2 separate regions of the Homo sapiens genome follow, and region 1 is linked to region 2. Evidence: fine-mapped expression QTL. A gene starts in region 2. The other region holds a variant in brackets. All regions are shown on one strand. Distances are between the middles of the regions.

Region 1 (8,000 bases), 270 kb before region 2:
ACTTTTGTATATTGATTGCCAGAACAAAGCCAGAACTCTGATGCAAGTTTGTATACCTGAGAAGGTACTCAAGTGGGAGGGATAGAAGCTTCCTTTTGATGCTGGGGTGGGTTGTTCTGAGGTAACAATGATTTATTTCTGTATTTCTTTTTCTTTTTGGAGACAGGGTCTCACTCCGTTGCCCAGGCTAGAGTGCAGTGGTGTGATCATTCCTCTTTGTAGCCTCAACCGCCTGGCTCAAGTGGTCCTCCCATCTCAGCATGTAGCTGGGACTACAGGCATGCATGTGCCACCATGCCTGGCTAATTTTTAATTTTTTCTGTAAAGGCAGGCTATCCCTGTTCGGGCTGCTCAGGCTGGTCTGGTTTTTTTTGCTCAGTCTGGTCTTGAACTCCCAGACTCAAGCGATCCACCTTGGCTTCCCAAAGTGCTGGGAGTACAGGTGTGAGCCACTATGCCTGGTGTGCTTGTCAATCTTGATGAAATTGAGAGTTTTTAGCACTTTCACCTAGCAAAAAAAAATAAAAAATAAGAAATTGAGAGCTTTTCTAAAAGATGTTATTATCGCATGTTCAATCCTGTTAACCTGTCTTACATATAATTATGAAATAGCTAAATCATTTATCTGTTACAAGGAACTGCGGCCACTGAAACTCTGGCAATAGTCCCACCTTTCCTTGGTTTACCTTTGAAAGTGCCTCCCCAAATTCAGCAGCGATTACCAGATTATCTTTTTTAAATTAATTAATTTATTTATTTATTTATTTTGAGATGGAGTTTTGCTCTTGTTGCCGAGGCTGGAGTGCTATGACGCAATCTGGGCTCACCGCAACCTCCCTCTCCTGGGTTCAAGCGATTCTCCTGCTTCAGCCTCTGAGTAGCTGGGATTACAGGCATGCACCACCATGCCCGGCTAATTTTGTATTTTTGGTAGAGACGGGGTTTCACCATGTTAGCCAGGCTGGTTTCAAACTCCCGACCTCAGGCAGGCGATCTGCCTGCCTCGGCTTCCCAAAGTGCTGGGATTACAGTTGTGAGCCAGCACACCCGGCCTTTTTTTTTTTTTTTTTTTTTTTTAGGCGGGGTCTTGCTCTGTTGCCCAGGCCGGAGTGCAATGGCACTACCACTGCAGCATCAGCCTCCCCAAGTGATCCTCTTACCTCAGCCTCCTGAGTGGCTGGTACCACAGATACATGCCACCACACCTGGCTTATTTTTAAATTCTTTCTAGAGACAGGTTTTCACTGTGTTGTCCAGGCTGGTCTCGAACTCCTGGGCTTAAGTGATCCTCTCTCCTGCCTGGAGGCCTCTCCAGCCTCCCCAGCTCCTGGGATTATAAGTGTGAGCCACTGCGCCTGGACCCGTTCCCACTCTGAGGTCTTTCTGACTGAGAATGGACTAGATAAAATAGAATATTTATTTTAAGCCTTTTTTTTTTCTAGTATGAAAGTATAATGTTAGCTAGAAAAAATTATATGTGGTCTACATTGTTGAATTAGTTTATTTCTAATTATTTTATGAGATTTAGTCTTTAGTCTGTGTTGGTAGAGAGTGCACTGGTCTCATTGTTGCGGCCTCCCTCCTAATAATGTAGGAAAAACTTGACCATTTTTGGGTGATTCAAAAATGCAGATAATGACAACTAATTTTTTATTCTTATACATCAGTCTTCCACAGTAAGCTATATTTTGGGCCCCTAGAATGAGGATTAAATTTAAGCCCTATTATTTTCTGTTGTTTTATTTTGCTGAGCATTAATCACTACTGTACTTTGTGTATAGCTTTCCACTAGAGTATAAGCTTCTTGAGAGTTGGGGCTTTGTTTTTGTTTATGCTGTGTGCTAGATGCTTCAAATAGGGCCTAACACATAGCAAGTGCTGAATAAGTATTTGTTGATATTGTTGAAAGCCTGGATATATGCTCTTCTTTGCTACCAATTTTCTTGAATGCTAGGATTAAGCCACTAGAGTGGAGGAGGGTCTGGATGCAGTGGCTCTCACCTGTGGTCCCAGCTACCCAGGAGGTTGAGGCAGAAGTATCATTTGAGCCCAGGGGCTTAAGGCTGTGATGAGCTATGACTGTGCCAGTGCACTCCAGCTTGGGCTACAGAGCAAGACCCTGTCTCTAAAAAAATGAATAAATTAGAATGGAGGACACTTTGGCAGGTAGGGATGAGGAGGATATCTGGATATTGGGTCTTGCAGTGTAGATAAGAAACAGAGACCTAAACTATAACAAATAAAAACGTATGTGTAGCACACATGTCAGACTACCACATTGATGATGTTTGGTATTTGGACCATTTAGAACAAATAATAAAGTGTCTAGTTGATTTTAAAAGTTTAGTCTGTCTAGGTACAGTGACTTAGGCCTGTAATCCCAGCACTTTGGGAGACCAAGGCCAGTGGAATGCTTGACGTCAGGAGTTGAAGACCAGCCTGACCAACATGGTGAAACCCCGTCTCTACTAAAAATACAAAAATTAGCCGGGCATAGGCCGGGCGCGGTGGCTCACACCTGTAATCCCAGCACTTTGGAAGGCCGAGGCGGGCGGATCACAAGGTCAGGAGATCGAGACCATCCTGGCTAACACGGTGAAACCCCGTCTCTACTAAAAATACAAAAAATTAGCCGGGCGTGATGGTGGGCGCCTGTAGTCCCAGCTACTTAGGAGGCTGAGGCAGGAGAATGGTGTGAACCCGGGAGGCGGAGCTTGCAGTGAGCCCAGATCACGCCACTGCACTCCAGTCTGGGTGACAGAGCGAGACTCCATCTCAAAAAAAAAAAAAAAAAGAAAAAGAAAAATAGCCGGGCATAGTGGCACATGCCTGTAATCCCAGCTACCCAGGAGGCTGAGACAGGAGAATCGCTTCAACTCGGGAGGCAGAGGTTGCTGTACGCCGAGATCGTGCCACTGCACTCCAGCCTGGGCGACAGAGACTCTGTCTCAAAAAAAAAAATTAAAAAAATTAAAGTTTAGTCTGAATTTTAAGCTCTCCTATTCTTTTTTTTTTTTTCTTTTGTGAGACAGTTTCACTGTGGTCACTCAGGCTGGAGTGCAATGGTGCGATCTCTGCTCACTGCAACCTCCGCCTCCCGGGTTCAAGTGATTCTTCAGCCTCAGCCTCCCTAGTAGCTGGGATTACAGGCGTCCGCCACCCCACCTGGCTAATTTTTTTTTTTTTCTTGCACCAAAGCTTTCTAAAGTTAGTGATTTATTTCTGACAAGTTTGCAAAACCCAAGAGAGAGCAGTTTTCTGGGTTGAACTCATACTTCGTGTTTACTCGAGTCTGAGTCACGGCACCTGACTTCCTCACAGGTGCACCTGACTGCTCTTTACCACCTGGCTAATTTTTATATTGTTTTAGTAGAGACAGGGTTTCACCATGTTGGTCAGGCTGGTCTCAAACTCCTCACCTCCAGTGATCCGCCCACTTCGGCCTCCCAAAGTGTTGGGATTACAGGCGTGAGCCACCATGCCCGGCCTTAAGCTCTCCTGTTCTAATCCTGTCCTAAACTGTGCCTAGGTTTTGCTGACCTTTAGACAGCCTTAAAGCTGTGAAGTTGCAAGTGATGATGTTTGTGTTATTCTCGGGTCTTGGTTTTGGTTATTAAGTCAAGGAATTGATACATTATGTATATCATGTAGATAGACATACATTCTTTGTATCTTTCTATTTTGGGGGGGTAACGGACACTCTTAATTAGGTTTCATTAATTTTCTCTGTTTATCTCACTTTTGGAATAATACTTTATTTTTGCATTGCACTTTCACATCAAAAAGGGTTAAAATTCAGTAAACATTTATTATATGCCAGATAGTAGGCTAGGTTCTTTCATATATATTACCTTATTTAATTCTCAAAACAACCCTGGAAGGTAGATGGTATCGTTTTAAACCTTGATTTTTTTTTTTTTTTTAATTATGGAGAGAGAGGCCCAGGGAGGGGCCATGACTTGCCCAAGATCACAGAGTCGGTAAGAGGTGAAACCAGACCTTGAACTCAGGTACCCTGACTCCAAACTCCCAGGTTTCTTCTCTCATACCATCCAACGTCTCTT[G/A]TGTACTTTATACAGAAAACAGGCCGGGTGCAGTGGCTCACGCCTGTAATCCCAACTACTTTGCAAGGCCGAGGCGGGCAGATTGCCTGAGGTCAGGAGTTCAAGACCAGCCTGGCCAACATGACGAAACCCCATCTCTACTAAAAATACAAAATTAGCTGGGCATGGTGGTGCACGCCTGTAGTCCCAGCTACTCGGGAGGCTGAGGTGGGAGAATCGCCTGAACCTGGGAGGTGGAGGTTGCTGTGAGCTGAGATCTCACCGTCGCACTCCAGCCTGGGTGACAAGAGCGAAACTCCGTCTCAAAAAAATAATAATAATAACACTCTTACTCCACGGTGTGTAGGCTGAGTACTTTCTCTCTTTTGAGGCTACTTTAGTGTTTTCTTTTCTTTTTTTTTTTTTTTTGAGATGGAATTTCGCTCTTGTCGCCCAGGTTGGAGTGTAGTGGTGCGATATTGGCTCACTGAAACCTCTGCCTCCCAGGTTCAGGCAATTCTCCTGCCTCAGCCTCCTTAGTAGCTGGGATTACAGGCGTGTGCCACCACGCCTGGCTAATTTTTGTATTTTTAGTAGAGATGGGGTTTTACCATATTGGCCAGGCTGGTCTGGAACTCCTGACCTCGGGTGATCCACTTGCCTTGGCCTCCCAGAATGCTGAGATTACAGGCATGAGCCACGACTTTCCGCCTACTTTAACATTTTCTTGCTAACGTCTGTCTGCTTAACATCCTGAATTAGATAGCTATAAATATTTGATAGCCAGTGTTTGATTATGTTTCAAACAAAGATGGCACATTCTTTCTTTTCATGAACTTTGAACTTATTGCACTTGATCTGTTAAAACGGCAGTATTGTGCAGTTTGTGTGTATGTCAAGGCTTTTATTTATGTATGTCACTCATATCCTTGTTTTCTGTTTTAAATTTTAGGTTCTTGGGGTTTTTCTCTGTCTGTGAGTACTTGGTAAAAAGTTAAACCCTAAAGATAAAAGGCAGCAAATAGTGACCAAACGAATGTTTTTGGCAAATACATTGGTGAAGGCCTCCTTCAGGTAGGTAGAGAGGAGGAGGGAAGAGGGTGGCCTTTCAGGTGGTAAAGACAGCATAAGCTTTATACTACTACTATAAGGCCTATTCTGTGGATCTCTGATAGATGAGCAGACTGAAGTAGGTGGTGTCTTTTGAGGGGCACTGCTGATAACGTTGGGTAGAAATTTTAAACAACTTTGAAAGCCAAGTATGGACATAGCCATTAGAAGTTTTGTTTTTTTTGTTTTTTGGATATGGAGTCTCACTGCGATGTCCAGGCTAGAGTGCAATGGCACGATCTCGGCTCACTGTAACCTACGCTTCCTGGGTTCAAGCGATTCTCCTGCCTCAGCCTCCCAAGTAGCTGGGATTACAGGCACGTGCCACCACGCCCGGCTAATTTTTTGTATTTTTAGTAGAGACGGGGTCTCAACTATTATTGGCCAGGCTGGTCTGGAACTCCTGACCTCAAATGATCCGCCTGCCTCGGCCTCCCAAAGTACTGGGATTATAGGCATGAGCCGCTGCGTCCAGCCAGTTTGTTTTTAATATAACAGTGATTTGGCCAAAGTGGCATTTTGGGAGTAATGTCTCCAGTTTCAGGTCGGGGTGGTCTAGAAAGAAATTCAAATAGCTTGCCTTTTGAGGTGACAGGAACCCTGAACTCTTAAGGCAGTGGTTTTCAAAGTGTAGGTCTCTCATTAGCAGCATGAGCATTAACTGAGTGTCTGGGAACATATTAGAATGCAAATTCTTGGGCCCCACCCCAAACTTACTGAACCAGAAACTCTGGAGTTGGGGCCTAGCAATCTGTGTTTTAACAAGACAGGTGATTTTGATCCACGCAAAAGTTTGAGAACCATTGCTGTGGGTTATAGGTAGAAATGGAAAGGAAGAGATAGAAGCAAGACACATTGGCAGTGAAGGACTGACTAAACTTTGTAACTGATGGATAGCAGCATGTTATGATAGAGAAGAGTACTTAATTGGGGATGTTGAGCCTTGAGTTTTAGTATCAAGTCTCTTACCAATTGTGCTTTTATTCGTATTTATTTATTTATTTTTTGAGAGGGAGTTTCACTCTTGTTGGCCAGGCTGGAGTGTAATGGTGCTATCTTGGCTCAGTGCAATCTCCGCCTTCAGGGTTCAAGCACTTCTCCTGCCTCAGCCTCCCAGGTAGCTGGGATTACAGGCGTGCGCCACCACACTGCGCTAATTTTGTGTTTTTTTTTGTAGAGATGGTGTTTTACCATGTTGGTCAGGCTGGTCTCAAACTCCTGACCTCAAGTGATCCACCCGCCTTGGCCTCCCAAAGGGCTGGGATTATAGGTGTGAGCCACCGTGCCTGGCCTATTTTTATTTTTTGTTTTGAGACAGAATCTCACTCTGTTGCCCAGGCTGGAGTGCAGTGGCCTAATCTCTGCTCACTGTAACCTCTGCCTCCTGGGTTCAGGTGATTCTTCTGTCTCAGCCTCTCCAGTAGCTTGGATTACAGGCTCCCACCACCACGCCCGGCCAATTTTTATATTTTTAGTAGAGACGGGGTTTTGCCATGTTGGCCAGTCTGGTCTTGAACTCCTGACCTCAGGTGATCTGCCCACCTCGGCCTCCCAAAGTGCTGGGATTACAGGCGTGAGCCACCGCACCCGGCTTCCAACTGTGGTTTTTTTTTTGAGACAGAGTCTCTGGCTCCTAGGCTGACGTGCAGTGGCGCCATCTCGGCTTACTATAACTTCCGCCTCCCAGGTTCAAGCGATTCTCCTGCCTCAGCCAGCTGGGTTTACAGCCCTGCGCCACCACACCCAGGTAATTTTTGTATTTTTAGTAGAGACAGGGTTTCACCATGTTGGTCAGAGTGGTCTCAAACTCCTGACCTCGTGATCCTCCCACCTCGGCCTCCCAAAGTGCTAGGATTAGAGGCGTGAGCCACCATGCCCGGCACCAACTGTGGTTTTAAACAAGAAAACTGACCTGTCCTTGTTGAAGTTGTACAGTGTGCTTTCTGAGGATTTTGAAGGCAAAGACAAATGAAATACTAAGGTAGACTTTGGGATTTAGCTTGGATTACCAGGAAGACTGGGGGAAAGATTTTTTGAAACTTTGAGGAGAGAATATGAGTGGATGAGGCTTTAGACAGTTGGAGATACTAGAAGATTTAAAGCAGATTCTCAACTGGGGATGATTTTGCCCCCAAGGAAACATTTAGCAGTGGACATTTCTGATGGTCAGACTGGGGTAGTGCTACTGGTATTTAATGAGTAGAGGCTAGGGATGCTGCTAAAGCATTCTGCAGTGCACAGGACAGCCCTAACTACGATGAATGAACAGGTCCAGAATGTCAGTAGTACAAGGTTGACAAACCCTGATGTAAAGGGAAATACCCAGTAGATAGGTTGCATGTTTCCGTCCTGATTATCTGCTATTCATTTTATAATTTTATTTTTTAAAGTTTTATTTATTTATTTACTTTTTTTTTGAGACAGTCAATCTGTTGCCGAGGCTGGAATGTAGTGGTGCGATCTCGGCTCACTTAAACCTCTGCCTCTTGGGTTCAAGTGATTCTCCTGCCTCAGCCTCCTGAGTAGCTGGGATTACAGGTATGCGTCGCCACGCCCAGCTAATTTTTATATTTTTAGTGGAGACAGGATTTCGCCACGTTGACTAGGCTGGTCTCGAACTTCTGACCTCAGGTGATCCACCTGCTTCAGCCTCTCAAAGTGCTGGGATTACAAGTGTGAGCCACCTCACCTGGCCTTGAATTTTAGATAAATCTAACACAAAACATCTCAAAAGCAGTCTCACATTGTGTTTCCCACATCATGCTTTGCAAAAGTAAGCATGAAGCCCTTTTTCTGTTGTTGAATTTTCACAAAACTAACTTCATGGTCATGACAATCCTCAACCCA
Region 2 (8,516 bases):
AGCTGGCCAAGGCTGGAAACCTGTCTCCCTCAGGCTCACCTTCCTAAGGAAAATGTCATAGTAGGTGCTGCTGGCCCCTGGTGATCCAGCTTCTCTGCCAATCATGACCTGTTCCTTCCTGAAGTCCTGGGCATGCATCTGGGACCCCCGTGGAGCTGACAAGTTTTCCTTGCTTTCCTGATACTCTTTGGCGCTGACTTGGAATTCTAAGAGCCTTGGACCCGAGTGTGTGGCTAGGGTTGCCCTGGCTGGGGCCCGGTGCCGAGACTCCCAAGCGGCTCTGTGCAGAAGAGCTGCCAGGCAGTGTCTTAGATGTGAGACGGAGGCCATGGCGAGAATCCAGCTTTGACCTTTATTCAAGAGACCAGATGGGTTGCCCCAGGATCCGGCTGCCAGCCCTGAGGCCAAGCACGGCTGGAGACCCACGACCTGGCCTGCCGTTGCCCTGAGCTGCAGCCTCGGCCCCAGGATCCTGCTCACAGTCACCGCAGGTGCAGGCAGGAAGCAGCCCTGGGGGACTGGACGCTGCTATTGATTCATTAAAAAAAGAAAAGAAAAATACACCAAGGCTCCATGTTCCCCGTGACAGGTGGGCCTGAGGGGTCGGGGTGACCCCCCCCCAGCATGGCAGCATGATTTCTGTACAATCAATCCATCATCTGGGGCACAGGGTGGTGTGCGGGGGCTATTTCTTGGCTTTGGCGGAATTGCGGGGTGGGGTGATGGGTCGGCCTCCAGGGTTCAGGCCACTGAACTGCCCGTACTTCCCCTTGTTCTTGTCGGCGGGCTTGAGGATCTAAAAGAGACAGTGTTGGTCAGGCTCATGGGGCTGAGCCACAGGGCCTAGCGGCTCCTTTCTTCCCCACACTCACCTGGAAAGAGCACATGAGGGTCTCGTCCACACTCATCATGGCGCCAGCATTGTCAAACTCGCCACAGTAGTTGGGAGCTGAGAAAAGTGTCACCAGCTGCCGCTTGGCAAAGAACTCGTAGCCGTCTTCTACCACCTGGGCGAGGATGGGAGCAGTCAGTCCCGAGCGCAGGCACGGCCCTCCCCTTCCCCTGCCGCAGGCCGGAGCCACCAGCCCACCTGGTGTGCTCGGCAGATGAGGTCCAAGTCGTGCTTGTGGAGGAACTTGGCCACCACCTCGGCTCCAAAGGTAAAAGAGACGCCACGGTCGTTCTCGCCCCAGCCCTGCACGTCCTTGTCAGGGTCAGACCACAGCAGGTCACACAGCAGGCCCTGGTCAGGCACATCTGTGGGCCGCATGATCCGCCGAATCTGCTCCATAGACTGCAGGTCCGGGGACAGGCCTGGGGGGCCGGGGGAAGGTCACTTCCTCAAACAAGGACATCCTCCCTCCAGGAAGCCTTGGCCAATGAACCCCACCTTTCCCACCACCCTCCTGGTCCCGCCACTGGTCTCCTGGGCGCCTAGACAGGCAGAAGTCATCCCCTTCCCCTCAGCTTTTTCAAGTTCCCAAACAGGCACAAAGGCATCCCTGCCCTCAGGAGCACAGAGCTCCCGGGAGAAAGGAGACAAGCCCACTCCATGTAGGACACACATCAAGGAAGTGAGTGCAGCCCAGCACAGTGGGGTATGGGGGACACTTCCTGGAAGGAGTGACTTCCCAGATGAGACCTAAGGAGAGCTGCCGGGTGCTGAGGGATGCGGCCAGTGCTCCTCCTCCCCAGCCATCCCCTCCCTCACCTCCGTGGCAGCAGAAGATCTTTTCGTCCACTATGGCCGCGATGGGCAGGCAGTTGAAGCAGTCAGTGAAGGTTTTCCACAGTTTGATGTTGTAGCGTCTCTTGCCTGCCCAGGGGGAGGTGGCTGTGAGGTGCCTGCCTACCCCACCCTCAGCCAGGGTCCCTGGGCTATTCAGCCGTGGCTGGGAGGAGAGAGTCAGGCACCGATGCAAACCACCCCCCACCCCTGCCACCTGTCAGCCTTCCAGGAGCAATTCTAGTTACTTTTTATTTTAATTAAAGAAGACAGGATCTGGCCAGGCGCAGTGGCTAAGACCTGTAATCCCAGCACTTTGGGAGGCCGAGGCGGGCGGATCACCTGAGGTCAGAAGTTCGAGACCAGCCTGACCAACATGGAGAAACCTCGTCTCTACTAAAATACAAAAAAATCAGCCAGGCGTGGTGGCGCATGCCTGTAATCCCAGCTACTTGGGAGGCTGAGGCAGGAGAATCGCTTGAACCCAGGAGACGGAGGTTGTGGTGAGCCGAGATCACACCATTGCACTCTAGCCTGGGCAACAAGAGTGAAACTCCGTCTCAAAAAAGTAAAGAAACAGGGTCTTGCTCTGTCACCCAGGCTGGAGTGCAGTGGCAAGATCATAGCTCACTGTAACTTGGAGCTTCTGGGTCCAAGGGATCTTCCCGCCTCGGCCTCCTGCCAGAAGTAATTCTAAAGCACCCGAGTCCACTGGAAACTAAGTTCCAATCTGGACCAGCCTCAGGGTTGGCACTCCTCGCATGCCCCCACCCATGAGCCGGGCCAAGTCCAGGTCTGGTTTATCTCAGCTTCTGGACAGCAGAGCCCATCTGCAAACATCCTAAGTGCTTAGTAGCAAATGTAGGGGGAGTGTCACCAGGCAGGGCCCTGGGGGAAAGCACTAGAATCCGGGCAGCCCTTCAGTCAGCAACCATTCCCCAGACCCCATGCCAGGAGGGGCAGGGCAGGCACGAGAACGGACCTGGGCCCCGCCTTCGTGGAGCGCACAGTCTATCAAGTGTCTGTCAGATATCAGGCCAATGTGAAGGTCCCACTGAATGGCAAAGAGTGCGGTTCAGGACCCGGGCAGCCCCAGACGCTCAGACCACTCACACTCATCGTAGAAACCATAGATGCGGTTGATGCTGGCACACTCGTGGTTCCCACGGAGCAGGAAGAAGTTCTCGGGGTACTTGATCTTATAGGCCAGCAGCAGGCAGATGGTCTCCAAGGACTGCTTGCCCCTGTCCACATAGTCCCCCAGAAAGAGGTAGTTGCTCTCGGGAGGGAAACCGCCATACTCAAATAGTCGCAGAAGGTCGTAGTACTGGCCGTGTATGTCACCTGTGACCCAGGGAACCGGGTAAGCTAGATGCAAGGTCTAGACCTGAACCCAGGGCCAGGACTGCGCTCAAGGGAGGAGGGCTCCAGGAACTCTGTGGGGTCCAGTGCCACTTTTAGGAAGGCAAGGGGACCTGGGCCGGGGGCTCACCGCAGATCTTGAGGGGTGCCTCCAGCTCCAGAAGAATGGGCTGGCTCAGAAAAATCTCCCGGGATTTCAGGCACAGACCGCGGATCTCGTTCTCTGTCAGCTGTACATTCTTGCCAGGCCGCGAGCCCTGCACTGGGGCGCAATGGGGTGTCAGGACCCTGGACCCTGACAGGAGGAGGGTGGGCGACACGGGTGGCCCCATGGATACCTCCGGGGGCGCCTAGGCCTCCTCGGCCCCTCCTTGCCCACAGGCAGCTGTTGCTGCTGAGCCTCCCGGGACCGCGGCCTCAAGCCTCCCAGGGGAAGCCCCCAGCTACCCTCAGCGCCTCGGGAGGCGACTGTCGTGCGCAGGGGGCTGCCACCAAAAACCTCACAGCGCAGGACCCCTTCCTGGACCGGGCTTCCCGGGTTTCTCCCTCGCCCCAAGAGCCCAGGCAACCCGTGCGCCCCCAGCCCGGGAGAGGGGGGGAGCTGCTCCGCGCGTCGGAGCTGGCCCCGGACCTCTCAGGCGCGTCCGCGGGGGGGCAGCTGCGGCCACGGAACCTCGCTGCCCGTCCCCGCCCAGTCTAAGCTGGCCCCGGGGGCCCGCCCGCGCGCCACTTCCGGGCCGGGCAGGGGGCCAGGGCGCGGCGGACGCGGGCCTCCCCCGCCCCGACCAACCTTCCAGCAGGCGCCCGATGATCGAGTCCAGGTTGAGCTTCTCGCTGTCGGACATGGCGGCGCCGCCGCTCCAGCCCAGCAGCTCCTGGCCCGCTCCTGCCTCCCGCCCTCCGGCAGCCTCCTTCCGGCCTGGCTCTCCTTCCGCCCGCCCCAGTCCGCCCCCGGCCCGCGGCCCCGCCTCCAGGCCTCCCGGGCCCGCCCCGCCCAGTCCCCCGCCCTCTAGCGCCCCCGCTGGACGTGAGGCGCGGCGGCCCGGGGGGCGGGGCCTCGGCGGCGGGCTGGGGGCGGGGTCTGTCGGGGGCGTGACCAAGCTGGTTACGCCCCAGAGGAGGCGCCCAGCCCTGTTCAGAGGATGTGGGGCCGGAAGGACTGTGGAAGTTGTTTTTCTCTTTCAAAAGCCCAACAGACTTTCCCACCCCTTCCCTGGGTGGAAGGTGTTGTGAACATGTTAATAACCGGCTGCTAGGCACTGAGGGTTAACTGCTCCAAGTGCAGGAAAGGAAACTGAGGCTCAAGAGATAAAAACAGCCTGGACCTCGCATTCACGGAGGACCCCCCACTTCTTCGTGGGTCTCTGTGGCGCCCAGGCGGCTGACCACACTCAAAGACAGCTACGGCTGAATTCCCAGCGCACTTTGGTCCTTGGGGCATGCTAAATTAATATTTTCTTATAAGTCCCATAATTCGCTTTTTTTTTTTGAGACAGAGTTTTGCTCTGTCCCCCAGGCTGGAGTGCAGTGGCGCGACTTTGGCTCACTGCAACATTCACTTCCCGGGTTCAAGCGATTCTCCTGCCTCAGCCTCTGGAGTAGCTGGGATTACAGGCGTGCGCCACTGTGCCCAGCTAATTTTTGTATTTTTAGCAGAGGTGGGGTTTCGCCATGTTGGCCAGGTGGCCTTGAACTCCTAACCTCAAGTGATCCACCCCCCTTGACCTCCCAAAGTGCTAGGATTACAGGCGTGAGCCAACAAGCCTGGCCCCATAATTAGCTTTTGAGTAGCACAGTAATATTGCAGGGTGTGCACATAAAAATAATTACTTTATGAGCAGACGTGGCTGGGCACAGTGGCTCACGCCTGTAATCCCAGGACTTTGGGAGGCCTAGGCGGGCGGATCATTTGAGGTCAGGAGTTCGAGACCAGCCTGGCCAACATGGTGAAACCCCATCTCTCTAAAAATACAAAAAGTTAGCTGGGCATGATGGGAGCCTCCTGTAATCCCAGCTACTTGGGAGGCTGAGGCAGGAGAATCGCTTGAACCTGGGAAGTGGAGCCCAGGCGACAGTGCGAGACTGTCTCAAAAAAAAAAAAAAAAAAAAGAAGAGCAGACGATAAATGAACCTTAATTCTTGTTGGAACCCTGAGTTGGTGCTTTACATGCCAGTAACCTCAGAACTGGAAGTGGGCCTGCCGTGGTGGCTCAGGCCTGTAATTCCAGCACTTTGGGAGGCTAAGGCGGGATGGTCTCTTGCGTCCAGCCTGGGCAACACAGCGAAACCCTGTCTCAACAAAAAATACAAAAATTAGCTGGGCATGGTGGTGCGCGCCTGCAGTCCCAGCTACTGTGGAGGCTGACGCAGGAGGATCTCTTGAGACCAGGAGGTGGAGGTTGCAGTGAGCCCAGATCGTGCCATTACACTCCAGCCTGGGTGACAGAGCAAGACCCTGTCTCAAGAAACAAACATGAAGTCCAGGCGCAGTGGCTCATGCCTGCAATCCCAGCACTTTGGGAGGCTGAGGTGGATGGATCACCTGAGGTCAAGAGTTTGACCAATGTGGCAAAAACCCTGTCTCTACTAAAAATACAAAAATTAGCCGGGCATGGTGGTGCTTGTCTGTAGTCCCTGCTACTTGGGGGGCTGAGGCAGGAGAATCACTTGAATCCGGGAGGTGGAGGTTGCAGTGAGCTGAGACCGCGCCACTGCACTCCAGCCTGGGCAACAGAGCGAGACTCTGTCTCAAAAGAAACAAACAAAAGAACTGGAGGTGGCCCGGCCCCTGCGTCTAACAGTCCTGGGCCCTCCACACCAGCACAGGAACTCAAGCCTGCAGTCACTGGGGCCATGGGGAAGGTGGGAGGAGCCCACAGCTCAGGGGCACTGGGGCAGGCAGGAAGAGCCTCAGAGAGGAAGGGGTGACACCCCCCACCCTTGGGAGGGGCCCCCAGCGGTTGCCAAAGCTGTGTGAGGAGGAGGAGGAAGTGAGAGGAGGAGGTGAGGTGCTGCGGGAGGTGAGCTGGGCTGGTGGGGACAGGGGCAGGGCTTGGGGCTGGGTCTCCGGACAGAGGCCTGGCTTTTCTGTCAGGGCAGGGCCTAGCCCCTGCCCCCATAAAAGAGGAGACATAGGGGGCTTGGTGAGATACCCTGAAACCTCCCCCCTCTGACCCCGCAGCCAGGCCCCAGGCTGGCCGGGAGTGGCCCCTCACACTGGTTCTCCCCACTTTCTCTGCCTGTGGCATCGAAGGCCCCGGGCACCATGGCCCAGGCCCTGGGGGAGGACCTGGTGCAGCCTCCCGAGCTGCAGGATGACTCCAGCTCCTTGGGGTCCGACTCAGAGCTCAGCGGGCCTGGCCCATATCGCCAGGCCGACCGCTATGGATTCATTGGGGGCAGCTCAGCAGAGCCAGGGTAAGGGGGCAGGGTGAGGGCTGGCGGAATGCTGGGACAGAGGACAGGGGGCTGAGGGCTGAATTCTGGAGGGAGGCCGGGAGGGTCTGGTGGTAGGGATTGGGAGGGGGACTCAGCCAGTAGCACCCCTCTGCAGGTGCCAGGTGGAACCCTAAGGTGGGAAGGGTCCGGGGAGGCCTCTGTACGTCTCTTACCCCCAGCCTCCGAGGGTTTGCACCCACTACTGGGGCAGAACATCCTTCCCCTTTGAACCTCTGGCTCAGGAATCCCAGATCCAAATCACAGAACCCATACCTCCTCCTTCCCCCTTTCCCCAAGCTACAGACAGAAACACAAGTCCAGATATAGACAGAAACTTGCCCCAGGTCACACAGATCAGACACAGACCCAGACTCAAACTCAGGACTCTGGGCTTCCAGTCCAGGGCTCTCTCCAGCCAGCTTCCCCTATGAATTGTCTGTGTCCCTGTCCTGGGTGACAGCCAACCAGTCCCTCCCCCAATACACACCCACTCACCCCTTCAGTCTCCTGCTTCTGCCCACGTCGGAGCCACATCCTTTCCTGTCCCCGTGACAAGCATTGGCAGCTCCTGGGTCACAGGTCACCCCACAGGGCTCCCAGAGATCCCTAGGGCCAGGAGCTGGGTTCACCTGGGTAGCCTGGAGGGTGGCAGTGTGGGCCTTGGGTAACAGCTGCCCAGCGTCTGGATACCTGTGCCATGCACCCCCAGGCCGGGCCACCCACCTGCAGACCTCATCCGCCAACGGGAGATGAAGTGGGTGGAGATGACCTCGCACTGGGAGAAAACCATGTCCCGGCGGTACAAGAAGGTGAGGGGGGCAGGGGCCCCACTTGGCTTCCATGGCTCATTCCTCTCTGCCTCAGCCCACATCTTGGCAAAATGTACCCACCCTGTGTCCCAGCACCTCCGGCCTTTGCTCCCTGCCACCCAAAGTGGGCCCCTGCCTGCTGATGAGCTGTGCCTGGGGCCTGCCAGCAGGAGCTATGGAGGCTGCCTAGTGGAGCCCTTGGCCTCACCCACAGGTAAAGATGCAGTGCCGGAAAGGCATCCCGTCTGCCCTGCGCGCCCGATGCTGGCCCCTGTTGTGTGGGGCCCATGTGTGCCAGAAGAACAGCCCTGGCACCTATCAGGTGAGGGAGTGGGCAGGGGCCCCAATTCCCCTACCCAGAGCCCCTCACCACACTGAACCCTCACACCCACCTTCCTGGCTACCCACAGGAGCTGGCAGAGGCCCCTGGAGACCCACAGTGGATGGAGACCATTGGCAGGGACCTGCACCGTCAATTCCCTCTGCACGAGATGTTTGTGTCGCCTCAGGGCCACGGGTACGAGGCCGGTGATGCCCAGGGACCCCCAGCCCCACAAGCCCCAGGTGCTCCAGCCCACTTTCCCTAGCCCAGCTCTACAGTCTTGCATCTCAGGGGACCCAGGAAGGCCCAGGGAGGCTGAGGCCTGGGCAGAGGCCCCCAGAGGGTGGAGAAGGGGGTGCCTGCAGGACTGGCCCCTTATGGGGTCTTCCGGCACAGGCAGCAGGGGCTCCTGCAGGTGCTCAAGGCCTACACCCTGTATCGACCGGAGCAGGGCTACTGCCAGGCCCAGGGGCCCGTGGCTGCTGTGCTGCTCATGCACCTGCCCCCAGAGGTGAGTGACCTTGACCCTGCTCTGGGAACCCTAGTGACCTAGGCCCAGGGAACCCCATCCCCAGGAACTGTGGCCTCAGAAACCTGCAATCCTTGATTCCTGGACCCTGTCCTAGTGACCCAGGTCCTCATGACTGCCAGCCTCAGTGACCTTCAAGCCTAATGACCTTGACTCCAGGAACCTGGGACCCTTGACCCCAGCCTTGACCCCAGTCATCTAGGAATCTGGATGTTATCACCTTGACCCCACGACTCCTGATTCTGAACTTGGGGACTGCGACCCCAACCCCAAAGACCCAGAAACCCAGGACTTGAACTTTGGGACACTCCCAACCCTTGGCCAGTGAAC

Evidence for each region.
Region 1: its variant is fine-mapped to the expression of PPP1CA in whole blood (TOPMed, PIP above 0.99).

What each region holds. Positions count from the first base shown.
Region 1 is chr11:67,126,957-67,134,956 of GRCh38, forward strand. All of the region lies in intron 2 of KDM2A (lysine demethylase 2A), which reads left to right. LOC124902695 (a long non-coding RNA gene) reads left to right here and starts at 7,655. Exons shown (of 2, transcript XR_007062740.1): 1 at 7,655-7,691. The variant G/A (reference allele first, on the strand shown) is at 4,065.
Region 2 is chr11:67,397,850-67,406,365 of GRCh38, forward strand. PPP1CA (protein phosphatase 1 catalytic subunit alpha) reads right to left here and starts at 4,009. Exons shown (of 7, transcript NM_002708.4): 1 at 3,879-4,009; 2 at 3,219-3,350; 3 at 2,840-3,070; 4 at 1,712-1,816; 5 at 1,091-1,314; 6 at 873-1,007; 7 at 334-796. The coding sequence starts at 3,933. The coding sequence ends at 686. RAD9A (RAD9 checkpoint clamp component A) reads left to right here. Exons shown (of 11, transcript NM_004584.3): 11 at 1-561. TBC1D10C (TBC1 domain family member 10C) reads left to right here and starts at 6,234. Exons shown (of 9, transcript NM_001369496.1): 1 at 6,234-6,505; 2 at 7,236-7,335; 3 at 7,550-7,657; 4 at 7,746-7,852; 5 at 8,054-8,168. The coding sequence starts at 6,354. RefSeq lists enhancers at 1-239, 240-820, 7,212-7,381 and a silencer at 3,491-4,270.